Linked DNA regions of Homo sapiens. The protein of the gene in region 1 interacts with the protein of each later gene in a pairwise test. Each region holds a gene or a part of one and is shown on either strand. Other genes may lie near its edges. The genes, in order: RTN3, PPP2R3C, CERT1 and RTN4.

Evidence for each region.
Region 2: the proteins of RTN3 (region 1) and PPP2R3C interact in binary tests that used the Homo sapiens proteins (3 or more experiments, as listed by UniProt).
Region 3: the proteins of RTN3 (region 1) and CERT1 interact in binary tests that used the Homo sapiens proteins (3 or more experiments, as listed by UniProt).
Region 4: the proteins of RTN3 (region 1) and RTN4 interact in binary tests that used the Homo sapiens proteins (3 or more experiments, as listed by UniProt).

What each region holds. Positions count from the first base shown.
Region 1 is NC_000011.10:63,677,212-63,684,499, reverse strand, and holds the start of RTN3 (reticulon-3), read right to left. Parts: upstream 3,001-7,288; 5' UTR 2,864-3,000; coding exon 2,722-2,863; intron 1-2,721. UniProt on the Homo sapiens protein: May be involved in membrane trafficking in the early secretory pathway. Inhibits BACE1 activity and amyloid precursor protein processing. May induce caspase-8 cascade and apoptosis.
Region 2 is NC_000014.9:35,118,856-35,126,974, forward strand, and holds the start of PPP2R3C (serine/threonine-protein phosphatase 2A regulatory subunit B'' subunit gamma), read right to left. Parts: upstream 3,136-8,119; 5' UTR 3,105-3,135; coding exon 3,047-3,104; exon of another isoform or gene 2,984-3,046; intron 1,974-2,983; exon of another isoform or gene 1,972-1,973; intron 1-1,971. Other genes in the region: PRORP (mitochondrial ribonuclease P catalytic subunit isoform 1 precursor), read left to right, coding at 4,391-5,376, 7,880-7,927. UniProt on the Homo sapiens protein: May regulate MCM3AP phosphorylation through phosphatase recruitment. May act as a negative regulator of ABCB1 expression and function through the dephosphorylation of ABCB1 by TFPI2/PPP2R3C complex.
Region 3 is NC_000005.10:75,508,503-75,516,182, forward strand, and holds the start of CERT1 (ceramide transfer protein), read right to left. Parts: upstream 3,128-7,680; 5' UTR 3,004-3,127; coding exon of another isoform or gene 2,706-3,003; coding exon 2,610-2,705; intron 2,568-2,609; exon of another isoform or gene 2,272-2,567; intron 1-2,271. UniProt on the Homo sapiens protein: Shelters ceramides and diacylglycerol lipids inside its START domain and mediates the intracellular trafficking of ceramides and diacylglycerol lipids in a non-vesicular manner.
Region 4 is NC_000002.12:55,019,295-55,026,509, forward strand, and holds part of RTN4 (reticulon-4), read right to left. Parts: coding exon 5,792-7,215; intron 1-5,791. UniProt on the Homo sapiens protein: Required to induce the formation and stabilization of endoplasmic reticulum (ER) tubules. They regulate membrane morphogenesis in the ER by promoting tubular ER production.

The DNA.
Region 1 (7,288 bases):
CCAACATGGCAAAACCCCATCTCTACCAAAGATATAAAAATTAACCAGGTGTGGGCCGTGTGTGGTGGCTCATGCCTGTATTCCCAGCATTTTGGGAGGCCGAGGTGGGCGGATCACGAGGTCAGGAGATCAAGACCATCCTGGCTAACACTGTGAAACCCTGTTTCTACTAAAAATACAAAAAATTAGCCGGGCATGGTGGTGGGCACCTGTAGTCCCAGCTACTGGGAAGCTGAGGCAGGAGAATGGCATGAACCTGGGAGATGGAGGTTGCAGTGAGCTGAGATCGCACCACTGCACTCCAGCCTGGGCGACAAAGCGAGACTCCGTCTCAAAAAAAAAACCAAAAAAAAAAAAAAAAAAAAAAAAACCAAAAGAAAATTAACCACGCGTGGTGGCACACGCCTGTAATTCCAGCTACTCGGGTGGCTGAAGCATGAGAATCATTTGAACCCCGGAGATGGAGGTTGCAGTGAGCCAAGATGGCTCCACTGCACTCCAGTCTGTGACAGAGCAAGACCTTGTCTAAAAAAAAAAAAAAAAAAAAAAAAAAAAAGAAAGAAAAGAAAAGAGAAAGAAATAACGAGTGGAAACCGCGGCATTTAATATTATTCGGAAAATGTAATGCAAACTCATGTACTTGGAACAGCACTTCACGATATAATTCTACTACTTTCGACAAAACACATAATTTCAGCACCTTTTCCACTATTATAAAGAGAAGTGCAAAAAATACACAATAAATAGATAAAAATTGTGACAAGGGTAGATGACATAAAAAAAGGTAAGCCAAACAGAAATATGTTATGTCATTAAATTCGTATTGCCAATTTAGGTGCCAATTAGGTTGTGGTATGCCTGTGTGTCTGTGAACAAAATACTCTTATTTCATTGGCCTACTAGGCCAGTTCTTCCATAAGTGCATTAAAAGAATGAAAAAGTTGAATCTCAAATGATTTCACCATTTAGTTATAAACAAACTAGGACTAAATTTTCAAATCTGCTAACTAAAATGACTCTTCAACACTTAACATCTGTCTTATCTTGAGCTTACAGAGCCAAATTTCTAAAACTTAGGTCTGAATCAAAAATGAAAAATCAAGAAAACCCAAAAGGTAAGTACAAAAGGGCCTACCAAACAGTAAGCAATGACAAGTGATTAAAGCAAAAAGATCAAGTTGCTAAGTTATAAGGAAGTCGCTGTTCATCTGGACCTTAGCCCAGAACACAAAAATTTGGAGAAAAGGCTGGTGGTTTAAAGGAGACAGGGTTCTAAATTTGCTGCCTCATTCTTTTATCTGCAAAAGCTTCCTGATACTGCCTGTTTCTACTGAAATGGCCATAACCACACTGAAAAAATCCAACAGGGCTCCAAAGCTCTCAGACAGGTGAAAATTCACTGCTAGAAAAACACGTAGAGAATAATACATTTAAGGTTAAGATCAGAAATTTTTTCTTTAGAACCCAAGATTCTGCCAAAGGAGACAACGAAGCATTAAAAAAAAATGATCAAAATCCTTTAACATAACTAAATAGAGAGCAAAATTATCTCTACTCTCCCGAATTTACGGCCCTGCCTTTGACAAAAGGCATTTTTTTTCCCTTCAAAGACTCCGTTCCTTTGAGAACTACCACCTGCCCATGGTGGTTTTTTTTTCCCCCCTTAAGAAGGCATCTGCACTGCAGATTTCTGCATAAGGGGAGCTTGCCAGGCAGCTCTTACCAGCAGGCAGACGCGTATACAATGCAAACTAAAGGAGGTCTGCAGCTTCGTTCTTAGTCTTTCACAGAGATGGGAGAAGGGGACTCAACCAGCCCTTGCTTTGTCTGAATGTTCTCCCCCTCCCCCTTTCTGCAATAAACACCCCCCTTTGTTATACTTCGATCAATAGTAGCCCACAGAAAACATGAAATCAAAACATGTTGATAGCTTAGCATGACTCTATTTTCTAGAATATAAGCGACTGATTGCGTGTCCCCACCCCCACGCAGCGCCAGGGAAGAGCAGGCTGTTGCAGATGCAGCCACGGATCCATCTTGGACCATTAGCAGCTCCCTCCCAAATCTTCCCTGAGCTATTCTCATCACGCCTCCTTCTACCTCGGAGCCTCAGAAAAATCCGGCATTCATGGAGTCTAGCCGAAAACAGTAAAAACAAAACAAACAAACAAAAAAAACAGGCTACAATGCTTCCATTAAACTTCCTCATCCTTCCCATGGGCAGCCAAAAATATTTTGGAGGACTATCATGAATGCTTGATTATGTCAACACCTGTCTGCAAACCTGCAATGCAACCCTTTCACCACCATCCCCTCAAAAATAGTAACAAATTGTTTCTCCCACCACCCACCTGCCCGTATCCTTTCAATCTCTCTAATCCTCACTAAATCACCCAGGTTCACCATATGCATCGAGCAACTCTCCATTTTATCCCACGAGCTGGTATTTTTCCCCACCTGCCCAGTCTTGGCGTTAACGCCCACTGGACTATCTCCCCGCCCCCAACCTGTTTTCCTCACACCCCGCTATTTCCTCACCGCCTGCACAACCTTACGTTCCCCTTCCCCTTTGCCCATTTTCCAAACGCTCGTCCCCGGGGGGCTGAAGCCGTCAGTAGTCGAGGGTAATTCGTCCTCCTCCCGCCTCGCCTCCTAATCCCCCCAGCCCCCAGGCTCCCGCTCGCCCTCTTTCCCAGGGCGGGGGCTCCCCGCGCGCCTTACCCGCACAGGAGGAGCTGCAGCTCTTCGTCCCCAGGGCGGGGCAGGCTCCTGGGCTCCCGCCGCCGCCGGGCGCGGACGGCTCGGCTCCGAAGGACGACGAGGAGATGGAATGGGACTGAGTGGCCGCCGACGGCTCCGCCATGGCTACGCGAGCGAGGGTGGGAGAAGGGTGAAAAGAGATACGGGGCGGGAGAGAGGGAGGGGAAATAGAATAATCCGGCAACTGGCTCGCTCAAGTCCCTTTACTCCGCCTGCTCCGAGGACAGACTCCGACAGACTGACTGACTCAGCCGAGCGCAGCTAGAGGGCGGGAGCGCGAGCGCGCATGCGCACAAAGGGCCCCAAGCGGGTGCCAAAGCGCGCAGCGGCGCAGGGCGCAGGCGCAAGAACCGCTCCTCTGCGCTCTTGCAGGGAAGGAGGGGCAAAGCCGGCCTCACGCGGCGCCTCGCGCGCCGAGGGTTGGGGAGCGTCCCTTGGGGACCAGACGCAAAAGGCGTATCCAAGCCCCAATCCCCGCCCACGACTGCGGCTAATCGTGGAGCTGCGGGATAGTATTCCCTCCTGCCTCTTTATGTGAATGTTTTAGGGTCGGCAGATTATGTATTTTAACGGTAGAAATGTCTTTGGGCTTCCATTATGGAAACTCTCTTTCCCGTACATTCCAGAGCCTATATCTTTTGTTTGATGCATTCCCACCTGTGACTCCAATAAAAACTGAAAACCAGAGTGTAGAGTAGGCCCACTCTGCAAGGTGCTTTGTGAATCTCACTGGCTGTGTCGTAATATCTCCTCACCGAGAGGCAGAGATGGCACGGCCCCCCATTTGGTAGGTGGAGAAAGATGCTATACAGAATGAAAAACGATTACTCATTCCAATCACATTGCAATGCAGTCGCAGAACCTGCTTCGTATTCTTATCTCGTTACTGTTGCCAGAGAAGGGTCCACCTTGGGTCTTAAGGTTCTCTTTTCCTCCGAATAGACTGTCAGATAGAGACGACATATTTTAGAGAGGGAAAAAAAATGCTGAGCTGATGAAGAAGAGCCAGGAGATAAGAAAATGTTGGCTGTGATTATGGGGGATGATAAAATTAGATATTAAAAATTCAGAATAAGGCCGCAGTCAGTGGCAGAGGCCCGTAGTCTCTGCTACGGCAGAGAAGGGAGGATCACTTGAGCCCAGGAGTTGGAGTCCAGCCTGGGCCACACAGCGAGAACCTTCCTGCCTTAAAAAAAAAAAAAAAAGTAAAAAAAATCAGAATAAGGCACAAAATACACATAATTGAATTTTATTCATAGACTAAAAGAGGTCCTTAGCAGAACATGTATTTAAAACCAGATTTCTAGCCTATATTGGATTTTGTTCATTTTTTGCTTTTCCTGGGCTGGATTGCCAAATTCGAAGCCTTCTCCCTACATCTGGTCAAAATATTGGAAAGGTGCATAGTCTTTGTTAAAGGAGGACTGTTGGCTGGGCGCGGTGGCTCACACCTGTAATCCCAGCACTTTGGGAGGCCGAGGCAGGTGGATCATCTGATGTCAGGAGTTCAAGAACAGCCTGGCCAATGTGGTGAAACCCTGTCTCTACTAAAAATACAAAAATTAGCTGGGGGTAGTGGCGGGCGCCTGTAATCCCAACTACTCGGGAGGCTGAGGCAGGAGAATTGCTTGAACTCGGGAGGCAGAGGTTGCAGTGAGCAGAGATCTCACCATTGCACTCCAGCTTGGGTGAAAGAGCAAATCTCCGTCAAATAAAAAAAAAAAAAGGAGGACTGTATCCTGGAAATAATAAAAATCAAGGCTGTCGACTGTTACTGCTAAAGCAGCAATCGATGACCCAAAGTACAATTGCAGGATCAGCAGATCCTGTAAAGATGCAGCCTCATGAAGCGGGAGGTGGTCAGCCAAGCTGCCACTGAGGGGAAAGGCGATCTGACCAGTGGAAATCTTCTAGAACAAGCTGTGTACTACATCTGCCCTTGAGTTTTTAAGGTCAGGTAAAGCCCCAGGGGGTGGGAGGATGACTCCTGGCCTTTGCAATGCTCTGAAAAAGGCATAGAAAAATATTTCCCAAAATAACTTTGTGGCTAATACCTTACCCTGGCACTTACTGCATCAGCTGATAATGCAGCAAACTGTCTCTTGGATGGCAAAGGGAAATAATAGCAGATCGGATAACCAAGCCAGTTATCTACCCATTCTGATACGTGCATATGTTTTTTTAAAAATCGCATTATTAGGGGAGCTGTTTTCTTCTTCCTTCCTTCTTTCTTGTCTATTAAACGCTCTGCTCCTTAAAACAAAACAAACAAACAAAAATCTACATTATTAAGTGCTAGATAAGGAAATAAATGATGCTGGTAGCTAACTCTGACAGCACTTGCTACAATCTGGAGACTCCAGCTGGAAGGAAGTCCATTTTCCTAATATGTAGCAGCAGAGAAGTTAAAAAGCAAGATATGCACGTGGTCTTACTGGTCTTTTCAGACCCTTCAGACATTTTTTTTTTTGAGATGGAGTCTTGCTCTATTGCCCAGGCTGGAGTGCAGTAGTGCCATCTTGGCTCACTGCAACCTCCGCCTCCCGGGTTCAAGCAGTTCTGGTTCAGCCTCCTGAGTAGCTGGGATTACAGGCACATGCCTCCATGTCCGGCTAATTTTTGTATTTTTAGTAGAGGCGGGGTTTCACCATGTTGGCCAGGGTGGTCTTGAACTCCTGACCTCGGGTGATCCTCCTGCCTCAGTTTCCCACACCTGGGATTATAGGCGTGAGCCACTGTGCCCGGCCAGTTCTATGAATGTGTATTGATCATGTGCTGTGTGTATAACACAATTCTGGGAACTTTGAAGAGACCTCCAAAATATGTTAGTCTTGTCTTCAATGAGCTTACAAGCTAGTTAGGACAAAAAACATACTCACATAAAGTTAAATAATATAAATTAAATAGCAACTAAAAACAACCCCAAACACCATAAAACCATAGTGCTTTGATTAGATGGCAAGTAAATTAAATGAATTTAAAAGAGAGGGGCCAGGCGCAGTGGCTCACGCCTGTAATCCCAGCACTTTGGGAGGGCAAGGTAGGCGGATCACCTGAGGTCAAAAGTTTGAGACTAGTCTGGCCAACATGGAGAAACCCCATCTCTACTGAAAATACAAAATTACCCAGGCATAGTGGTGTGTACCTGTAATCCCAGCTACTCGGGAGGCTGAGGCACGAGAATCACCTGAGCCTGGGAGGCAGAGGTTGCAATGAGCCAAGATCATGCCACTGCACTCCAGCCTGGGCAACACAGTGAGACTCCACCTCAAACAAAAACAAAAACAAAAACAAAAACAACGAGGGGAAGGAATTACCATGAAGTTGTAGTGGCTTAGGGAGGTTTTTTTTTTTTTTCTGTCACCCAGGCTGGAGTGCAGTGGTGCGATCTCGGCTCACTGCAACCTCTGCCTCCCAGGTTTAAGTGATTCTCCTGCCTCAGCCTCCCGAGTAGCTGGGACTACAGGTGCGTGCCACCGTGCCTGGCTAATTTTTTGTATTTTTAGTAGAGACGGGGTTTCACTGTGTTAGCCAGGATGGTCTCGATGTCCTGACCTCGTGATCTGCCTGCCTCGGCCTCCCAAAGTGCTGGGATTACAGGCGTGAGCCACTGCGCCCAGCCAGGAGGTTTTGTGAAGATGCTCAAAGTTAGATAGGTGTTTGGAATTGTAAGGAAGTCATTAAAAGCAGAAAAGGATGGTATGAAGCAAATACAGGGGTTGCTTTTGTGAATGTATACAAAAAAAGTACTCTTCTGGGCAGATGAATCACAAAAAAGAACCTCTTTCTCCCAGCCCCACCCATGATACAGTTCCATGCTGATTTGGCTAGCAGAACCTCACCTAGATTTGATCCCCTCTTGCCCCTTGTCTCCACAAGCTGCCTTGGTGTAACACTCAGACTGTACAGCCATATGTGGTGGCTAAAGGCTCAGACGTGAGCGTGTATAAGGTGTCTTGGGTGTTGGTTAGACCAAATTGGCTGGAGCTGAAGGCTTGAATTAGGACAGGAGGGAAGATATAGGGATAACATCTAAAATGAGGAAGATATGTTGGGGCCAGTTTTTGGAGAAGCAGTAGTATTGAACCAAAGAACTGAGGCTTTGTCTTAAGAATAATGGGGATTGAGTGGAAGTTTTTGGTGGGAAATGGCTCAGCTGGGATTTTTTTTTTCCTTTTTTTTGTCCAAGATGGGATTTTTTTTTTTTTTGAGATGGAGTCTCACTCTGTCACCCAGGCTGGAGTGCAGTGGCATGATCTCAGCTGACTGCACCCTCCACCTCCTGGGTTCAAGTGATTCTTCTGCCTCAGCTTCCCGAGTAGCTGGGACTACAGGCCCATGCCACCATGCCTGGCTAATTTTTATATTTTTAGTAGAGACGAGGTTTCACCATGTTGGCTAGGCTGGTCTTGTACTCCTGACCTCGTGATCTGCCTGCCTCAGCCTCCCAAAGTCCTGGGATTACAGGCGTGAGCCACCGCGCCCGGCCCAAGATGGAATTTTTAAAGTGCTCCCTGGCTGTCATGGT
Region 2 (8,119 bases), on another chromosome or scaffold:
GTTGGCCAGGCTGGTCTGTCTCCTGACCTCAGGTGATCCACCCACTTCAGCCTCCCAAAGTGCTGGGATTACAGGCATGAGCCACTGCGCCCAGCCAAGTACAGGTAACTTCTTTGAGAAGTTTTCCTATGAAGAGTGCAGAGAAATGCAACAGAAGCTGGAGAGGGATGTGGGATCAAATGACTTTTTTTTTTTTTTTTGAGATGTAGTCTCGTTCTATCGCCCAGGCTGGAGAGCAGTGTCGTAATCTCAGCTCACCGCAACTTCTGCCTCCTGGGTTCAAGCGATTCTCCCGCTTCAGCCTCCCAAGTAGCTGGGATTACAGGTGTGCACCACTGCGCCCAGCTACTTTTTGTATTTTTAGTAGAGACGGACTTTCACCATGTTGGCCAGGCTGGTCTTGAACTCCTGACCTCAAGTGATCTGCCTACCTCGGCCTCCCGAAGTGTTGGGATTACAGGTGTAAGCCACAGTGCCCAGCCCAAATGAATTTTTTTTAAGACAGGGTCTGGCTCTTGTCACCCAGGCTGCAGTATAGTGTCATGATCATAGCTCACTGCAGCCCCAAACTCCTAGACTGAAACAACCCTCCCTGCTTCAGCCTCTCGAGTAGCTAGGACTACAGTGGTGCACAACCACCCGGGCTAATTTTTTACTTTCTATTTTTGTAGAAACGGTGTTTCACTATGTTGCCCAGGCTGGTCTCAAACTCCTGGCCTCAAGCGATCTTCCCATCTCGGCCTCCCAAAGTGCTGGGGTTACATGAATGAGCCACCGAGCCTCCCAACACCACTACCCCCGACCACCCACCTTTTAAAAAGATGGGTGATATTAACAGCACGTTTGTGCTGGTGTAAATGATCCAGCAGAAGGAAAATCTGATGATGTAGGAAAGAAAGGAGGAGGCTGGAAGGAAGTCAGTGAATACAGGGAAAAGAATGCAATCTAGTGGTGGACTGGAGGGACTCTTAAATAGGAGCATGGACAGTTCATCTTTTTTTTTTTTTTTTTTTGAGACGGAGTCTCGCTCTGTCGCCCAGGCTGGAGTGCAGTGGCACAATCTCCGGCTCACTACAACCTCCGCCTCCCGGGTTCACGCCATTCTCCTGCCTCAGCCTCCTGAGTAGCTGGGACTACAGGCGCCCGCCACCGCACCCGTCTAATTTTTTGTATTTTTAGTAGAGACGGGGTTTCACTGCGGTCTCAGTCTCCTGACCTCGTGATCCGCCCGCCTCGGCCTCCCAAAGTGCTGGGATTACAGGCTTGAGCCACCGCGCCCGGCATCAGTTCATCATTTTAACAGTGAAGCCAGAGTGTATGGGCAACTAACTGTGGGGTTGTGGGGCTGAAAGAAATGTTAAGGGGGACAGGTGATGTTCTCCTCTGACTGCTTCTCCTTTTTTTTTGAGACTGAGTGTCGCTCGGTCGCCCAGGCCGGAGTGCAGTGGCACAATCTCGGGCTCACTGCAAGCTCCGCCTCTCGGGTTGAAGGTATTCTCCTGCCTCAACCTCTGGAGTAGCTGGGACTATAGGCGCCCGCCACCACTACCGGGTAATTTTTTTGTATTTTTAGTAGAGACGGGGTTTCACCGTGTTAGCCAGGATGGTCTCGATCTGCTGACCTCGTGATCCGCCCGCCTCGGCCTCCCAAAGTGCTGGGATTACAGGACTGAGCGACCGCGCCCGGCCGACTGCTTCTCCTTTCTTAATGAGATATATATTAAAATACAAGTTCATCAGCTTAAAGTAAGAAGCGGGTAGGACAGACTGCAGGTGTAGGAGATGAGAAGAATAGTGTAAAAGAGTGTTGCCTGGGTGCGGCGGCTCACGTCTGTAATAGCAACACTTTGGGAGGTGGAGGTAGGAAGACTGCCTGAGGCCAGGAATTCGAGACCAGCCCAGGCAACATAGCAAGACCTCATCTCCACTAAAAATAAAAAATTAGCCGGGTGTGGTGGCGTGTGCCTGTACTTCTAGCTGCTCAAGAGGCTGGGGTGGGAAGATCCCTTGAGCCCAGGAAATCGAGGTTGCAGCAATACTTCACTGCGCCGCTGCACTCCAGCCTGGGCAACACAGGGAGATCCTGTATCGGAAAAAAAAAAGTGTATTTAGGAAAACACAGATTGGCAGTTTGGGAGATGAAAATTGAATGTAGGAGAATGAACGTCCAGGAAAACACGGTAGACATGACCAAAACACCTTCTTTAGATTAGTGGACTTGTATTAAAAGTGAGATAACTCGGCGGGGCGCGGTGACTCACGTCTGTAATTCCAGCACTTTGGGAGGCCGAGGTGGGCGAATCACAAGGTCAGGAGTTTGAGACCAGCCTGGCCAATATGGCGAAACCCCGTCTCTACTAGAAATACAAAAATTAACCGGCCGTGGTTGCGCGCGCTTATAGTTCCAGCTACTCCAGAGGCTGAGGCAGAAGAACCGCTTGAACCCGGGAGGCAGAGGTTGCAGTGAGCGGAGATGCTGCCACTGCACTCCAGCCAGCCTGGGCGACAGAGCAAGAGACTCCGTCTCAAAAAAAAAAGTGAGACAACTCACCAAGGTTCTGTTTTTCTCCAGCCACTTTCAACAGCCCTTAGTGCGGGTGTGGAATAGGAAAGGTAGATTTAACGAGGTTAGTTAATAAGCAATGTGAAGGAGAAAAATAAAAGGAAAAATGGATTATGAAATATAAAATGGATTACGAGGGAAGCAAAAAGCGTGACAGTAAAAAGGCAGGAGGACAATTATAGGTCCTGGTGGGGTTCAGGCGTTGTTGGAGCCGGGGTTCCAAGTTATTCTTCACAAGTTTAGATTAAGACCATGGAAGTCAGTGACTAAAGCTAAGTTTTTCGTTCCTCTAGATTCTGCCCCAGGAAAGTTTGGGTCAAACCTATCGGGATCCTTAAACCACATTCCACTCCGCCTCCTTTGTCGGGAGGTTTCACAGAAGCGGAAAAGGCGGCTCCCCCTTGCTCCTCCTCCCCACCTCCCCCCTACCTCTAGGAGTTTAGGGCCGGGCCATCCCAACGGGCTGCCCCTCCCAAAACTCACTGTTTGGACAGGTGTTGGGCGTCGCTAGGCGCCGACGAAGAACTTCTTTCCAGTCCATGGCCGACTTCCGCGCAGCAGCTTCTGCATTTGCTGTTTCCTACCTGCTCCACCCCTACCAGCTCAGGCGTCAGCACCGCCAGGCCCCGTAAAGGTTAGGAAGGCCGTCCAACCACCATCTTGATCGAGGGCGGAAGTCTTGGCTAAAGAGGCAAAAACAATTACTGTCACTGCCGCGGAGAATACCGCTACCACGCTGACTGGGGGAAAAAACTATGAAAGAGATGGAAAATGGTTCTCCTTCAGAGGCGACCCAAGCTCACCAAGCCGGATTTTAAAGGCCACGATAAGCCCGCGTTTTCCTTTATCGTGTGCCTTTGGCGCGTGCGCACCACGTGACCCAGGAGTTCATTAGTTCCGGCTTGAGGGAAGCGCCTTCTTTCACAATTTCTTTTCATTGTTCATTGCGGATATCTGGAAGCCTTCCAGGTCCCCTGAATGTAGTAGACACTTCAGCAGCCGTCTCCTACCCCTTTTGCCACTAAATGCTTCAAAACTGCCTTTTTTCCTCGCCGCCGGGCCAGGCGGAACGCCTAAGTCCGGGTCAGTCTCGTCCGTCGGTCGGGGCTGGCGCGGTGCATCGTGGGCACTGTAGTTTCCGCCGCGTTTATGGCCGCGTTAAGTCTGAGTGCCGCTTTGAGTTGTTGAATGAAGTGAACTTCATTTGTCAGCGTTCGGTACGCAGTCTAGGCAGCGCCCTTCCTGTACCTCTCTTCCTTTCCTGAGTCGTTGGCGCAGCTGACTCGCCACCTCCTCCCTCCTCGTCCCCCCACCGGAGGAGTTTTGCGGTCTGTAGAGAGCTATGCAGGGTGAGGGCCCCTAGACTTCGGCTTTCGCCGCTGTTGGTGGTAGGCTGGAGTTGGGGGTCCCTGGATACGGTTTTGGCTTTACACCCCCTTTCCAGCAAGCTTCCCGTGGGAATCTGTTCCTTTTCAGGACAGCTGTGATCCACGTGAGTAAAACTGGGCGTTCCGTCTTGTGCTTTTTCCTCAGGTTCATGAACTGGAATGTAAGAGGCACCAGAGGATTCCTGCTCTGTCCCCTGGTTTGCGGCTTGCGACGTTGGACATCCCCGGATTGTTGTTTAATAGAGAAAACTCACCTGCCTTCTTGCTTTTAAGTAGCCCCAAAAGCAGAACCTTGATTTGTCTGTAAGGAAGAAACACAAACCTTTTAAAAAGTTCCACTTCGACTCTGCACCGCCGACCCCCAATCTCTTTAATTTTGCCATAGAAGAGGGGTTTTTTCAACATCTCTCTCACTATCTGGTGCTGATCTCACTGCATAATGACTTTCTATTTGTTTGGTATTCGAAGCTTTCCGAAGCTTTGGAAGAGCCCATACCTTGGGCTAGGCCCAGGGCACTCTTATGTCTCGCTGTTTCTGGCAGACCGCTGTGGCATCAGGAACCAGCAGAGGTTGTTTTCTCTTAAAACAATGTCTCCACAGAATACCAAAGCAACGAATCTGATTGCCAAGGCCAGATATCTCAGGAAAGATGAGGGCAGTAATAAGCAAGTTTATTCTGTTCCTCATTTTTTTTTAGCTGGAGCAGCTAAGGAGAGATCACAGATGAATTCTCAAACTGAAGATCATGCCTTGGCACCTGTGAGGAACACTATTCAACTCCCAACACAACCTTTGAATTCAGAGGAGTGGGATAAACTTAAGGAAGATTTAAAAGAAAACACCGGAAAGACCAGTTTCGAAAGTTGGATCATTTCACAGATGGCTGGCTGTCATAGCTCTATAGATGTGGCTAAATCTCTGCTGGCATGGGTAGCAGCCAAAAATAATGGTATTGTAAGTTACGATTTACTGGTCAAGTATTTGTATCTCTGTGTCTTTCATATGCAGACATCTGAAGTTATTGATGTCTTTGAAATTATGAAAGCCAGATATAAGACTTTAGAACCTAGAGGTTACAGTCTTCTCATCCGGGGATTGATCCATTCAGACAGATGGAGAGAAGCATTGTTGCTGTTAGAGGACATCAAAAAAGTTATAACTCCTTCAAAAAAGAACTATAATGACTGTATCCAGGGAGCTCTCCTTCATCAAGATGTAAACACAGCTTGGAATTTATATCAGGAATTGCTAGGTCATGATATTGTTCCTATGTTGGAAACTTTAAAAGCTTTCTTTGATTTTGGAAAAGACATAAAGGATGATAACTATTCAAATAAACTACTAGATATTCTTTCATATCTAAGAAATAATCAGCTGTATCCAGGGGAGTCATTTGCACACAGTATAAAAACATGGTTTGAGAGGTAATTTTGGTTTTTTTATATGTATGTTTTTATTCTTTAATTTTTTTTTTTTTTGAGACAGGGTCTTGCTCTGTTGCCCAGACTGGAGTGCAGTGGTGTGTTCATAGCTCACTGTAACCTCAAACTCCTGGCCTCAAGTGATCCTCTCGCTTCAGTCTCCTCAGTAGCTAAAACCACAGGCATGTGCCACCATACCTGGCTAATTATTTTTAATTTAATAACTTTAAACCTCAAAGTAGCCATTCTTTTTTGTTGTTAGTTGCTGAGAATCACTCTTCTGATTATACTTTTTTCCATCTCTTAGTAAGATTTATTTTCTCTTTACGACAAAATTTTCTCTCTTTAAAAAAAGTAACAACATACATAATTTGTGCTAATCTTTACCCATCACATAAAACTGAAATTATATAGCAGTTTTAATTTTTACATTTTTTTCCTTTTGGAAGGATCATTAATTTTGTTTTCTTAGGCATCTAGTATGATGTGAGTACTTAATACTACTTATGGCCACTGTTCATAGCAAGAAAAGAATATAGCATTTGACTAGAACTGTCTCTGGCCATATTAGTATTTTCAGAAGTTCCTCTGAAATCTAGCGACTGAGATAATATGCTTATATTTATTCTGTCTACTCTCTCCCTTTTTTTTTTTTTTGAGACGGAGTTTTGCTCTTGTTGCCAGGCTAGAGTGCAATGGCATGATCTCGGCTCATTGTAACCTTTGCCTCCCGGGTTTTCTCCTGCCTCACACTCCCGAGTAGCTGGGATTACAGGCATGCGCCACCATGCCCTGCTAATTTTCTATTTTCTTTTTAGTAGAGACGGGGTTTCTCTATGTTGGTCAGGCTGCTCTCGAACTACCTCAGGTGATCCGCCTGCCTCGGCCTCCCAAAGTGCTGGGATTACAGGCGTGAACCACCGCGTCCGGCCTATTCTGTCTACTATCTATAGTTCATCAACTTGGATGATTAGAGTGGACAGGGGGATATTGATCAAGCCTTATACGTAAGCATTACAATGGAAAATCTTAACCCTTCCAGTTTGTTTTGGACCTTTCTATCATTTGGCTGCTGTCTCTCTAAAGCTCTCTCCTTTGGTTTGCTTTTGCTTTATTCATGTTACTGGGTACATACCTGTTTATTGCTTTAGTCTTTTTTAAAATTTTTGAAAATTTTTACTTATTTTTTAAAATTAATATTCTTTTTTTAAGAGGTGGGGTCTTGCTGTGTTGACCAGGCTGGACTCAAACTCTTGGCCTCAAGCGATCAGGTGTGAGCCACCATGCTTAGTCATTATTTCTTCATTAATTTGCTTCCTAAAAATTTGTTCCTTCCCTCTGTTTTTCTCTTGCCTTTTTTTCCCCTATATCATGTTTACGGAGCTTTGAAGCAGTAATTATGCTTAATTATCTTAAACTTACTGAAGATCAAGGGAGGAGGAGCCCATTTGTGAAAATCTTTGAATACCAAGGAGTTTGGATTTTATTCTGTTATCAAGAATGCTGGATTTGGCTGGGTGCTGTGGCTCACGCCTGTAATCTGAGCACTTTTAGAGACTGAGGTGGGAGGATAGCTTGAGGCCAGGAGTTGGAGACCAGCCTGGGCATGGTGAAACCCTGTCTCTACAAATAATACAAAAATTAGCTTGGCATGGCGGTGTGTGCCGGTAGTCCTAGCTACTTGGGAGGCTGAAGCAAGAGGATCACTTGAATCTAGGGAGTCAATCAAGGCTGCAGGGAGCTGTGATGGCGCCATGCACTCCAACCTGGGCGACAGAGCAAGACCTTGTCTCAAAAGAAAAAAATAATGCTGGAATGGAGTTTTACAAAGGCAGTTGCCAAGTGAGAAGAGTAGATAGGAGAGGGATTAAGATTGAAAACAGGGAGATCTGCGTGAATACAATTTTAGGTTTAGGTGAGAGATGATGAGAATTAAGAACTGAGGAAGGAGAGAAGGCAGTAGAATCATAAGAACTGATGGTAATATGTGGAAGGGGAAGGAGGAAAGGATACATTGATTGAACAAATACATCAATACATAGTTTTTGAATGCTTCCAAATAGGCTAGGCATTGCGAGTGTTTTATAAAATCTATTATGACATTCTCAATTTAATTGGGAATACAGTACCACACAGTGAAATAACAGTGGTGTGTAAGAGGTAAATTACTCTCGGCAGGAGCAATTTCTGGCAGCTTTATGGAGAAGGTAAGAGTTGAGTTTGGTTTAGAGGTTATGCTACTAAGGTCAGCCGCTTTTGGTAGACTTGAAGATGAGAGTTATTTGTTGGGAGGAGAACCACAGGGAAGAAGGAGATCCAGAGCAGAGTACCAGCAGCTTCTTAACCCCATCCAGGATAGCAGCCACTTTTTAAATTAAACCATTCTACAGAAGTATCTTGAACTTTTCGGACTTCTTGCTTATAAGAGTTTCCAAATACCATGAATATCTTTCATTTCAGTAGGAATCTAACCTTCTCATGATTTGGTTTTGCAATCTTTTCATAGTGTTCCTGGAAAACAATGGAAAGGACAATTCACCACAGTCCGAAAAAGGTGAAGACCAATGTTTATTTTTAACTTGTTTGATTTTGGTTTAGTAGGTTTTGTTGCTATTAATTGAAAAATATTTAAGAACACCTTAAGGGTAGGATAATTACAAGTTTGTAATTAGAGTATCTGAGGAAAAAAACATACTTTGCATACAGAGACTTAGCAGTGCCCAAAATGTTTTTCCTGTGAGTACTG
Region 3 (7,680 bases), on another chromosome or scaffold:
GTAAGTATTAGCTGTATCATGACACCTGGAAGACAAGTTTTTTGTCTTTTCTCTGCTCTCATAATGTTCCCTCACTCTTCCCCATTTAACAAATACAGATAAGGCAATATGCTAGACACTGCAGGGGAATCAAATATTACTGTGGCCAACAGGCCAGCAGACACAAACTCAAGAGAAAAAAATATATATTTAGAATAAGAGTCAGAAGCAAGCTACAAACAAAATGCTATGGGAATTCAAGTGAAGGAGGTCTTGAATGATGGCAAAATAAGAAAAGGCTTTATGGAAAGGACAGTATTTGGCTTGGACTCTTAAGGATGGACAGAATTTCAAACAGTTTGGTGTGTGGAAAAACAGAAGGTAAACCATGAAGGATGGAGGAAATTCAGAAATTGAATGAGATTATTTTATCCAGGCTTAGGTGCTCTCAAGTCCTACTAAGGCATGCATCTTTTCCCCACCATGATCCATCACGATACTTGCTATAACTAGATAGAATTATTGTCTATCTAGTATTTTTGGAATCTATACACTTAAGTGATTTATAAGAAATATGCTTCATAGGTATTTCCATGTATTTCAGATTACCATATGGAAAATACCCTTTGAACTGGTATATTTCTAATATAAATTTACCCAAGCCCATTCCAAATCCACCCCATTTTGGGGGAGAAACAAAATGAATTGTACCGGGACTTATTTACATTACTCAATGGAAGGAAAAGAACAAAATCCGAGTTCTGACCTTTGTTTAAATTACCAGGTGAATACAAAGAATTCAAACTATATAATTTACATTTAAAAACATCTACCATACTCAGTATGAGTATATATACTCAATTTAGAATACCCTTGATTAAAAAGCTTCCAGAAAACTGTATATAACCATAAATTGGTAAATCTCAGGAAAATTTCCTTCATAGCTTTGAGCAAGAATACCAAAAGCTTTATTCCTATTCATTCTACATATGCAGCAACAGTCAAAATTTAAGCTATTCACCTTCCATAGAGGTGATCAAATACATTTGTATGCATTTAAATATCGAGATTGGTCTTCCATTTTTTTATCTATAGTATACCTACTCCAGAGCACTGGTTACTTTTTCCCCCGGTCACTCCACTCCCCCAACCCCCAAAAAAGTAATTATCAGTAGGTCAAAAGTACAATTTGTTTCGTAAAATACTTAACACATCACAATACTAATATGGCAGTCAGCTTCCCATCTTATGAGCAGTGATGAAACTACCAAAATCACTGAGAAGCAAGTAACCCACTTCCTATTACCAACTGAAAATGTATACCTACTACACAATGTGTTCAATAGAGATTCCTAAATTACAGGATACATTTAATCTAAAGAAATCCTGAGGAGCTTCTCGTTACTGAAAACCTTGCACTGAAATTTCAAGAATGATCACAGCATCAATATACAACATAATTTTGCTGCTATACAAATAAAAGTCAACACTTGCAATCCTTAGTTCTGACTACTCATGCCTTTCCTGGCCCCCTTCTCATTAGCTTTCTAGACATTATAAAAGCCTAATATGAAACAATTCCACAAATAATGTCCAAGTGATTTGCCAAATATGAATACTGGAAACAGGGTGATTTCTTAATAGCCACTGGCTGCACATGACATAGTATCTTATGACCAGCTTGTTGAGGGACTGGCCCAGCTCCCCCTCTCCAAGTTAACTGCTAGCTCCAGCCATGTCTAAAAAAGTTTAACAGGAAGGGAGAGAGAAGTCAAAAAGGCTACGTGAATCTTCTTACAGCAAAAACTTAAAAAAAAAATCCCCACAACTATGTAATATCAAGAGATCATCCACCTGCAGTCCTATAATGACTGCTTTGCTAAAATTTTGATACAGGGATTTTAAAAAATATATAAAAGATAAAACATCTTTTCCTTACCCTCGACCCCTTACCGCAAAAATATTTTATTATTAAGTAATGCTCTTCCTGGACTAAAGATCAGTCTCCATTCTCACATGTTCCAAGTTACTATGAATATTTCCTGTACCCATCATGTGCCGATTCAATATCTCTATTCTGAACTAAGGTACAGGGTGAGGGAGAAAGTCCTCCACATTCATCTGTCTCACTACATCTAACCTAGCAGAATTCAACACCTCAAATTTCAACACCAAGCTGAGTCGCTCCAGCTTCTGTCGAAAGAGTTGCGTCCGCAGTGCCCCCCAACCTACTCGGCTTGGCATCCTCAGAGAGACCAACCTCTTTTAAGAGGTCCGACTTGAACCGCTCCCATGCCCAGTCGTTCGGACACCGCTGAAGCCCAACCCGGATTCCTTACACCCGGGACAGCTGCCGCCCTAAGTCCCAAGTCACGGCGCGCATCTGGCCTCCCAAACTGGATCTCAGGTTTATACACCCTTTCCCTGGTCCTCGGCTGCCCCCGACGAGCCCCCGGGCAACAAGGACAGTGCCCCTATATCCCCGCCTCATCCCTAGTCGCTGCAGCAACACTCAGCCTCGCACCCCGGCACGTTCCGCGCCTCCCGCCAGCCCCACCCCACCGCCTCAGCGGATTGCCTCGCTGCAGGTGAGTCTGGCCAGGGGTCCCTTGGCACCAGGGGTTGCTCACCTTACTGAGGACCCCGCAGCGCTCCACAGGCGGCCCAGACTCCGTCTCTGGATCCTCCTCCGAGCCCGACGAGTTCCAGCTCTGATTATCCGACATGGAGGCTCGACAACCGAGCAGGAGACCGGCCCCCGCTCCCTCAGCTGCGCCGGAGGAGGCGCCCAGTCCTCGGGGTGAAGGGTCGGGGGATGGCGAAGCGAAGAGTGCCCGCTCCGGTGTGGGGGGGAGCAGGAGGAGGGACGAAGTCCGCCCGCCGCGCCGCCGCCGCGCCTGACACCGAGCGGAGCGAGGAAGGAGGACGAGCGGTGAAGGAAGCCTACCCTTCCAGCCGTCAGCCGCCGCCGCCGTCGCCGTGACCCCTGCGTTGCGCCCGGCGCTGCCACCCGAACTTAGCCCCCTCGATGCCAATTTCAAATAGGGAAGGAAAAGGGAAAAGAAGGGAAGAGAAAATCCGGCCGCTGAGTCCCGCGTCCACTCACACCTCCGCTACCGCCGCCATCTTCCTGCCTGGCCCACTATTTACCCTCCCCTCCCCTGTCCTTTCCCCTCCCCTTCGTCCTCCCATTCTCCCCCACTACTCCCCGCCCCGTCCCCCTCCCGGCGTCTGACGCGACACGCCGAGCCTTCGGGATCCTCCTCCCGAACCCTACCTCCGGCTCTCCCGGGTGACGACGGGTAGAAAAGCAGGAGGAGCGGAGAAAGGAGAGGGCGGGGTAGGGATGCAGCTGTGCTGCATTCTGGGAAGGGCGTTGGTCCGTCGCTCGCGCAGCCTCCTGGGAGTTGTAGTCGCGATCCTGAGGTAACGGGTGAGTATCCCGCGCGGGGATCGCTTGTCCCCTTGGGGCCTTGTCAGTCGGTGGGTGGGCTTCGTTTGACAGTTGCGTGACCAGCCCCTCGGCCTCGCTTCTATCCTTGCCTTGTGTGTTTATGACGAACCCTCCGGGCTTGCGGGCCCAGACGTGAGAGAGCTTTCCGCTGAAGATGACGGGCCTGCTTTCCAGGGCGGCTTGTCGAAAGCCCGGGAGCATCTGGCCGCTTCCGCCTCAACCATGGGCTGGGGTTTTGTGAGCTACTAGTGCCAAGGGTTTTCTTTCCACCAGACCACCGCTGTAAATCTCGAGGGTCTTACTCATTAGAAGTTAGAATTCACATTTGACGTTTAAAGGAAGAATTTCCTTAGTACCTTCTCACAAGCACGCACTTCGCATTTTTAGATTTCTAGAGTTTGCTTTGTAGAAAGTAATTTTGAGGTTGTCAGAGAATAAATGACGTTAGAAAGGTTTTTAAAGTAAAACAAGAATGTGAGATGATAGCCTGGGATTTTCTCTTGGTTGTAAATGAATATCTTACTGAGAACCACGTTAACCATGCCTGCCCCTCAAAGATAGGAAAGGTTGGATATATAGAAACTTTCTCGTATTAGAAATACCGAAGTGCAGTGGTTTTGTGTGTACAAGGGATTAGGCAATAGGAGGCTATTTTTGTTTTAAGACTAGGGTTGAATTAGCAGAAAGACCAATAGAAGATCTAACAACTCTTGTCAGTTGTCAAGGATAACTTTGATTATGAGACTTTGACTTTGTAGCTTCAGTAATTTCCTCTCGTTAGCTATTTTAATATAGTCGATTTCCTTGTAATTGCCAAGAGTAAAATTTGTTATTAAACCTTAGAAAGAGTACTTTCTTACTACAAGGATGGGACGATAGGAGCGAAATTTCGAGTCTAAGGGAAAACGCTGGCCGAGTGTGGTGGCTCACGCCTGTAATCCCAGCACTTCGGGAGGCCGAGGTGGGTGGATCACCTGAGGCCGGGAGTTTGAGACCAGCCTGGGCAACAAGGTAAAACCCCGTCTCTACTAAAAATACAAAGATTAGCCGAGCATGGTGGTAGGTGCCTGTAACTCCAGCTCTTTATATCCTGGTTTCAAATCTAGGCTTGATGACCTTCTCCCATATCCCAGTATCATATTTTTTTCTTCCTGCATGGGGGATTAATTACGATTCTGAATGGTTGGTAGCATGAAGCTAGGTTATCCCTATCGTGGCAATGGATATTTAAGTAGGCATTGCCAATATTTATCTTGCTTTCTTTTACTTTCTTCTTTTTCTGACCATCCACACTCCATTTATATTGATGAGTTCTTTTACTAATATCAATTATTATTATATTATGCTCATACTGCCATGTCTTATTCTGCAGCTTTGATCCTTAAGGTGACTTTGCATATCTGTCTAGGACTCCTTTATCTGTTGATTTTTACCATTTAAGTCTCCAAAGACAGCTGTATTTTTGGAAAAGTGGGAGGGAAGAGGTAGATGGGGATACTCATTGATACCTTAATGCACTTCACAGCTGCTTGAGAATATGTCAGATCTCATAAAAAGTTCTAACATTCGAGAATAAGACAGTGATTTCAGAAATGGAATTTCAAAGGGTGTGTAGGCCACCCTTTTTATCCTGTTTCCTATTGTAGAAATGAGAGCCAGGCTAGGAATGTTTCAAGCAGAAATATTCTTACTATTCAATGAAATTGAAAATGTATTCCCATATCTTTTACTCCTATCTGTTTGGTTTATGGGATAAAAACTTGTTAGAGTAGTTGGTATTTCATAGGCTTCACTATAACATTGGAAAATCTTTTAGTCTAAAAAGCACACAGTACGGTACACCAATGAACAGTATTAGTGCCCACTCTTGGCATGTACACATGTTCTTTCTGTCGTTTTTATTTTGCTTAGCTTTTGAGTCTCTTCCTGTTACTGTGAGAAATTCTTTTATTAATATTTTAAAGGCATACTATATAAAGCAGTGTGGTGGTATATTAGGTATCAGTAGAATCCTCTTGATAGTTATTTAGTAAACGTGTTTTGCTTCCTGTTTTTTTCTAACCTTTTTATTGTTTCACTTCTACTATAATTTCACATCCTTTTCTTCTTAGTCAAATAAGTTGAAAAAATATATTTTTATAGAACATGTTGCTATGGTGATAGTTTATGAAAATATACTTTATCCCTGTTTAAGATCTTTATTAAGATCTTGCTATATGATAATCTGACTGGGGTGCTATAAAAGTAAGATATAAACCACTTCTTCTGTAGATTCATTGTTTTCTAGCATTTTTCTGTCTAGGTATTCTGACAATAATTATGTGTAGAGAGTGAATAAATATTTAAAATTGTGTGTGACATAGGAGGTTTTCAGTAAATAATAACTGATGAATGAAATAAGTTTAACTTGGTTGATGATTGAAGAGAAGTTGTGGGAACTGCAATTAACAAGGCCCAAGAAAAAAATCACTAACATGATTAAAATTGGTCAGACACCAAAGAACCAAATAACATCATAGCCTTTTGTAAGTAGCAATTATCATTTGCCAAAGGCCTACAAAATGTCAAACATTGTTTTAGGTTCATTTGATTTATTCGCTCTTCACAAAAATCCTGCAAGGTAGACATTATTCTTACTTTACATATGAGGAAATTAACATTCAAAGAAGTTAATTGCCCAGATCATCGCTAGTGAATAGTCTAGTCCAGACTTTGGACCTTAGGCGCTTGCAATACATAACTTTTAATACATATAGAATTGATTTTAGATTTTAGAAAAGTCACTCAGGCATAATGGCACATATCTGTAGTCCTAGCTGCTCAGGGTGCTGAGGTGGCAGGCTAGCTTGACCCCAGAGGTTTGAGGCTGTAGTGAGCTGTGATCATGCCAGTGCACTCCAGTGTAGGTGACAAAGTGAGACCCTGTCTCAAAAAAAAAAAAATTCCAAAAAACTATTATCCCAAATTTTTTAAATGATTAAACATTTGAGAATCTGTCAGAGCCAGATAGATTACATTCTAGGTGTGTTACATAGTTTTTCTTTAGTTTAACAGTTTTCTTAAAAGAAAATTCATCCACATGCATTTTTAAGGTGCAGTAACATATAGCCAGTTTACAGCTCTTTTCTTGCTAGTGTACACTAGCAAATATATGTTCCAATTACGCATAAATAATTTAAATGATCTCTGGAGCCTCTTGCAACTATCCCCTTGTCTTGTGTTGCTACTAAAAGGAAAAACGTATTGATTTAACCTTTGGTATTATCAGGAAAAATAGTCATTGTCATTTACTATCATTTTATTTTTTGTATTTTTGGTCATTTTATGAATAGTCCTGAGAAGCAGCAATAAAGGGATAGTGGAAAAACAACTTTATTAGAAATTATAATAAAAATAAAAACATAGCAAACCCAAATTTTTATTCCATATATTCTTGAAATAGGGAGGCCTCAAGCAATCCTCCTGCCTTGGCCTCCCAAAGTGTTGAGATTTGATGTGAGCCAACATGCCAGGCCCAATATTCTTTTTTTATGGCTAAATTCCATTGTGTATATAGACCACATCTTCTTTATCCATTCATCCATTGATGGTTGATTCCATATTTTAGCTATTGTGAATAGTGCTGTAATAAACGTGTGAGTGCAGATATCTCTTCAATGTATTGATTTCCCTTTTGGATATATACGTAGTAGTAGAATTGCTAGATCATACAGTAGTTGTATTTTAAGTTTTCTGAGGAACCTCCATACTGTATTCCATAGTGACTGTACTAATTTACATTCCCACCAACAGTGTAGCAGGGTTCCCCTTTCTCCACATCCTTGCCACCATCCATTATTCTCTATCTTTTTAATAAAAGCCATTTTAGGCCGCCCATGGTGACTGAGGTGAGAGGATCACTTGAGCTGCTCAGGAGTTTAAAACTAGCGTGGGCAACGTAGTGAGACCTCGTCTCTAGTATAATAAAAAAAATTTTTTTTAAGCCATTTTGACTGGGGTAAGATGATAGCTCATTGTGGTTTTGATTTGCATTTCTATGATGATTAGTGATGTTGAACATTTTTTTAATTTACCTGTTGGCCATTAGTATGCCTTATTTTGAGAAATGTCTATTCTTTTGCCCATTTTTAAATAAGATTATTTTTCTTTTATTGAGTTGTTTGAGCTCCTTATATATTCTGGTTACTAATCCCTTGTCAGATGGATAGTTTGCAGACATTTTCTCCTGTTCTGTGGGTTGTCCCTTC
Region 4 (7,215 bases), on another chromosome or scaffold:
GGTAAAGACTGGATCAAGCAAGAATCATCAATGGTTTACTAAATTGGAGGGGCGAATTTTGATAGGGAGCAGGATATCTGCATGTGTTCAAGTGTCACTCCTCAGACTGCTTATCATCTGCAAGGGAGAAACAAAGACAATATAAGGAAATCAGAGCTCATCTTGCCCAGACGGTCAAAATTAACATAACCAGTGAGGGACTGATGAATAGCAGATAACTCTAGAAGTGGTGCTATGAGAGGGACACATCATCATCTATACAGTATCATAAATGAACCCATAGCCTCAAATTAATCACTAGGAAACATCGGACAAATCCACTAGGAGGAATGTTCTATTATAAAGTCGGGGGAAGAGAGGCCCTGTGTTCTTTAAAACTGCTAATGTCATAACAAATAAATAAAGACTGAAATGGGAAGTCCTACCCAGAGCAATTGAGCAAGAGAGAAATAAAGGATATCCAAATTAGAAAAGAGGAAGTCACATTGTCCCTGTTTGCAGATGACATGATCTTATATAAAGAAAAACCTAAAGACTACCAAAAACTTGTAAATTCTGTAAAGTTGCAGGATATAAAATCAATAACAAAAATATCGCATGTCTTTACACAAACAACAAACTAGCTGAAAAAGAAATCAAGTAGGAAACTCCATTTGCAATAGCTTAAAAAAAAATACCTCAGAATAAGTTTAACCAAGGAGGTGAAAGACTTCTACGAGGAAATCTACAAAACAATGATGAAAGAAATTGAAGAGGATACAAACAAATGCAAAGAAAGACATTCCATGTTCATGAATCATAAGAGTTAACATTGTTAAAAAATGGCCGTAATATCCAAAGCAGTCTACAGATTCAATGCAATCCCTAATAAAATACCAATGACCTTCTTCACAGGAATAGGAAAAAAAATCCTAAAATCTGTATGGAACCACAAGACTCCAAAAAGCAAAAGCAATCCTGAACAAAAATAAAGCTGGCGGAATCACACTACTAAATTTCAAAATATACTACACAGCTATAGTAACCAAAACAGCATGGTACTGGCATAAAAACAGAAACACAGACCAATGGAACAGAACAGATAACCCAGAAATTAATTAACATATCTATAGCCAATCAATTTTTGGAAAAAAAAAAATGCCAAGAACATTCATTGGGGAAATGCCAAGAACATTCATTGATACTACTACTGAGAAAAAAAATCAGTATTTACATTCCAATAGTAAGAATATAGTTTGTCACAAATTTCTTTGTAAATGGAGGGGGAGGAAGACCAGAATTCATTAGTTTCTTGACAAACTTTACTTCCCAAAATTAATAAAGCACCATCTGCATCACAATACCTTATTCATCTCTCTTGCAAAATCAATCTTTCTTCCCAAAACTAAAACTGATTTCTGCCTACAAAATGTCATTTTAAGAAAACAAGAACAGGAAAGTCCTGGAGGCTCACACCTGTAATCCCAGCACTTTGGGAGGCAGAGGCGGGAGGATCCTTGAACACAGGAGTTTGAGACCAGCCTAGGCAACAAGGCAAGACCTCCTCTCTACAAAAATAATTAGCCAGGCATAGTGACACGAGCCTTTGGTCCCAGCTACTTGGGAGGCTGAGGACCACCTGACCCTGGGAGGTTGAGGCTGCAGTGAGCCATAATCTCACCACTGCACTTCAGCCTGGGCGACACAGCAAGAACCTGTCTCGAAAAAAGAAAAGAAGAACATATGAGATAATAAATGATCTGAGGAAATTAGTATTTTATTATTTAATAGTTTAAATGTTTAAATGCATATACATTAATAAGACCCAGAATTTTTTTAAAAACACACTTAAATATTTCATAATTAGAGATGGCATAAAACTTTTAAGTCATCTGAGAAGAGAGCTTCCCTTATGTTTTATCAGACCACTGCTGTATTTTGGTACATTTGACTTCAGTACACTTGAACCTCCCTTTCACGAAGATACACAGGTAAGTACCTATCCTCACTATAACATAGATCACAATGTTTAACTATGTCCTCAACAGTGTGTCTGTACCAGCTGGCTGTAAGTTGCATAAAGCGCAAAACTTTGTCTTAGTTTCATCTTTTTCCCTGCCCCCCCCGCCAAAAAAAAATCTCATATAGTGCCTGATAGAAGCATGTTAAAGCAACTCTTACCTGCTTTTACACTTTTTTTTTTTTTTGTCTTTTTTTTCTCCCTTTTTTGTGGAGAACGGAGTCTCACTATATTGCCCAGGCAGGTCTCGAACTCCTGGGCTCAAGCTATCCTCCCACCTCTCCCTCCCTGAAAGCTGGGATTACAGGCGTAAGCCATTGTGACTGGCCACTACTTACCTGCTTTTAACAGATGCCTGTTATATAATCAAGTCAAGAAAATTATTAAGTTGCAAGGACTTGAGCTAATCCACCCTTCCTTTTATAGAAAAGGAAAATGACATCTAGAGAAACAAAGTGATTGTCAGTGGTATAGCCAAGACTAAAACCTCAGGTCACCTATATTGTTTTCATTATAGCAATACTGGGTTTCCTTCCCACAACTTTTGTAGAATATATATATTGGGTGTATCTAAATAATTCTCTATTCCCTAGTAAGTTGCTATGATAACTAATATCAAAAAAGGTTAAGTCAAAAAGGCAGGAAATAACAATTTTCTCAGAGAAGGGAGATAAACATATTCTAAAAGAGAATGCCCAAGCATTGCTTACACTTTCTTCCACCATTCCCATTAAGCTTTCAAAGGCAATGCCCCCTTTTCTTCCCTTACTTCTAAACTATTAGGCTATAGATTTCCCAGGTTTAACAAAAACAATCCAAGAAATAGGTGACTCCTGAAATACTGAAATTCCTAAGGGCCACCATCTACTAGAGGACTGCTAGCTTTAAGTTTTGGGAGGAAGCACTAGCGGGGAGGGGAGACTTCAAAGGTGTTGCTACACCGATTACTCCTTGCTCTTCACCCAGTCATCACCAAGCTGCTCTGGGCTTCTGAGACCCTTCTTTCTACTGTTCCCTCCTAAACCATTTTACTGTGCTGTTTGAAACCCCCATTCCACTGTGAACCAGCTCCTCTACTCCTCAACATCTTTACTGAACATTCCTGCCTTTACCTCGCCTTCACTAAAACCTGGCTGTTCCTTGAAGATACTGGTTTCCCTGTGGAACTTGCTAAATGAAGGCTAAATCGTTCTCTCATATTCTACACACCTAAGGGAGGAGTGGGGAGGTCAGTACCCTCTGCTCACCAATGCTGCTTCCAGACTTTTATTTCAGAGACCTTGGGCAAAAGTCTTGGCTATTCCGCTACGTCATTCTCTGTCCTTCCTCATTTCTTCTACCTACCATCCTGCCAGTTACCTCACTGCCCTTTACCAAGGACTCTAACCCCAGTATTCCTCTCCACCCCTAGTCCTGCCATCACCCTGGGTGACTTCAATGTTAGGTAGAAGTGCAATACAGTATCATGGCCTCATAGTTTACTTGACCTCACCTCTAGCAATCTTAATCTGACTACACAGTAGGCCTTTGCCTGATGGCCTAACACTGGCCATTATAATCAACCTGAACTGCTATTCCTCTGAAATTCTAAATTCAACATCCAACACACACACACACACACACACACACACACACACCCTGCTCTCCCGCACATGCATTCTTTCTCTCCCCTACTTTGACCACAATCTCCTATCATTCTGGCATGTATTTATTCCTACTACTATTGGTTCTTAAACCTAATCTGGGCCTTGAGTTCACTGACCATCTACTCTCCTCCTACCTCTCCTACCTTTTTCTATTCACATCCTTCAACTTAGATGCCACAGTCCATCACTTCAAATTACTCTCCTGCTATCACCCTCAACTTTCTTGACTTACTGTCCTTCCACAGGGCCCACCTGCCAAAACACATCCTTGAATCAATACAATCATTTGCCTTCCCTGAACCCATACCTAGGTTGTTTGGCACAATCAAAGAAAAGTCACCCTACCATTTAGACCACCTTTCAACCTTGATTAGGCTCCTAATACAATGCCTTTGGTTTCCCTAGTCAGAGGTATTGCAGATCTCTTCCACCCAAGCATGATCTACTTCATTCCCAGCAAATGAACTAACATACTGCTTTAAAGAACAAACATAAACCATCAAATAATTCCCTCAACTTTCAGTCACAAAACCCTAACAGTATCAATACCCCATACTTTCCTTTCCACTCACTACAATCAAAGCTCTATCGTTCCTTCTCTCTAACACTAATTCTTCCACCTGAACTAGGCAGCACATCCCCATCCCCTTCTGACTTTCTGCCAGCACCTGTAATCAGATTTTCCCCTTCCCACCTTAAAAAAAAAGTCCTACCTCCACTGCATACTCTCCTTCCTGCTTGCTAATATTTTAATTTTTCTCCAATAAAAATCTCAAACTTCTTAAGAGTAATCAACATTTAATAACCACTTACTCAAGTCTCATTCACTTCTCAATCCTAGCCATGCCCATGCACACCACACCATTTGCCGCTGTCATGACAATATCTTCCCTCCTTTTTGACCAACTTGCAATCCTTAACTGACCTCTCCAGTATTTGATAATTTTGACCATTTCTTCCACCTTCAAGTAGTCCTCTTCTCTTGATTCTTCCTAATTGGTATCTGGGGCTTTAATTTCTATCTCTAAGCCCATGACAGACACATACAGCCAAGATCTCTCTCAAGAGCTTCATGTGTATAATATCCATAACTTACTGGATATCTTAGAGGTATGTACATCAATACCAACATATCCAAAACCAAATTTGTATCTTCCCTCTTAAACCTACTTTAATCTCTCATGTTCCCTATCTCAGTTTCTCATACTGCCACCCATACAAGTGCACATGCCAGAAATGAAATCCAGGGTTCCTGGGGTCATCTTTACCTCTTCCCCTCATCCTTTATGTCCCTATCCGTCAAACACCAAGTCCTATGTCTCTGTGCTCATCCCACTGCCTGAATGTTCATAATCTCCTCTTTCTTAGATTACAGCAACTGGTCTACCACTGTTCCAATGGTGATGAGCTGGACTGTACTGCTGAAGCACCAGCACTTAAATACATAAGTATATTCAGTAAATTTATCATAATCACTATTTTAGAGAAAACGCAGCTAAATCAGAATGCTAATAAAGAGCACATGTGCAAATCACCTTGTGCAAATCACCTTATGCAAATCAGGTATGTGGAAAATGGATAGTCAAAAGAAAAAAAGGAGAATCGGTACTTTTCAAAAGAATTCATAATAGCATAACTCATTTTATACTTTTCAACAAAATGTCTACACTCAATATGCCTAACTTTATACCTACCACTGGAAAAGTACTATATTATATAGAAATATTTAAAACATACTATAGAAATTTTCTTTAAAAATTAAATATGGTAATTTCTGGGATAACAAAAACACATCTGAAAATATTTTAATATCTCTTGCTCTTCATGTTATCAAGAAACACAAGTGAAAAAAGAAAGAAAGAAAGAAATAGGTACTAAAGCCAATTCTTATAAACAAAAATATTTTCTATTAATAGTTCCATAGTGCAATATAAAAGTGTAACTGTGTGGAAAAGTTAAGGGTGAATGCTGAGTGCAAGAGAGTTAGAAAAAGCACTAAAACCTTTAACTGAAAAAGTGGAGAAGACTTCTTACCAATGTGACATATGAGACACTATAAACATAATATAAAACACAAAATGTAGTGGAATGTTCCCTAAATCCAAAAGTGGCATGAAAGCACAAAACTGCATATAGATTGGATTACCTGAAGTTTTACTCAGCTCTGCTGAAAATATAGCAGATGGTGATCTGTCCTCTTTTTCTGTATCGGAAGGAAGTTTTTTCTCAGCTTCTTTCACAAGAACTTTGGGTTTAACTATGCTCTCTATCTCTGCTTGAGTGGCCAAAGCAGAAACATCTGGAGGCAATAAGAGCACCTTTGATGTAGCAGACCCATTTTTAGAAAAGTCATCTGAGAAACTGATTTTCTCTTCAACTTTGGGTTGTATGTTCTTCAAAGAAAGGTCATGGGGCAATTCTGTGCAAGGCAATGACCCAGCTCCATCCGGGGCATTAGCAATTTCACTTTTGTGGGATACTTCTAGGTCAGTATATTCCCTGGCTAATTTAGAAAATGAATCAGTTTTAGAACTGATCAATGTAGGGAACTCATCTATAATTTCAATTGGAGATGAATCTGAAAACGTTTCAGTTTCTCTTATCTGTGCTTCCTTAGAAATAAATAAGTCATCATTTGAATAAACTGCAGTACTGAGCTCCTCCATCTGCAAAGGAATTTTCTCCTTTTTGCTCAATGTTGAAACTTCATCAGGTAACAGGGTATCTTTTGTGTTATCTAAACTGAGCTTAAAAGATTCCAAATATGGCTTTCCTCCCTCAGGTGGCAAAGCACTGAGTTTTTCCTTATTTTCATATTCTATCATTGACTCAAATGAAGTCTCAGTGAGACTTTCTTTCACAAGCATCACAGTTTCATCTTGTTTTTGTGGAACGTCAGGTATTGAATCATCACTAAATAAGTCAACTGGTTCAGAATCAGGTGAGGAATCTTCAACTAGCTCAGAATGATCAGGCACTGGCTGTTCAACTTTTGCCATTTCTGAATAATCAGAGAAATCCGGAGCTGGTTCAGCAGAAAGCTTTGTTTCTTTAATTAAATCACATGCAATAGATATATAAGGAGCTTCTGTTTCTTGAAGAGCTGCATTAATATTTTCAGGCTCTTTAATTTCTTCCTTTATTCCTGATACTTTTTTTAGTGATACACTCATGGCCTCTTCATATGGTGGGGGGTTTTCAGGCTCATGTTTTATGCTTTCATAATTAACTGAAGAAGCTTCTAATGGTGATGAGCTGGGCTGTATCACGGAAGCACCAGCACTAGGAACTGCAGAATTCAATGGTGCTTCCATAACAATGTCAGGCAAAACTGGTGAAGGAGTAGCTTCTGACTCTTCAAATGATGGGCAAAGCTGTGCTGCAGGATAGAGTGACTCTTGCATAACTTCTGATGTTTGAACCAAGTCCATTTTTGTTTCATAAGCAATCTTTGTACCAGTAACTTCATTCAATTCACTTTCACATGCTTCCTGTACTAAATCTGGAGTCAGGCCTTCAGGCATGTTTGCCACGACTTCCTCAGTCACCTTTGTTAAATTATCTGTTGTG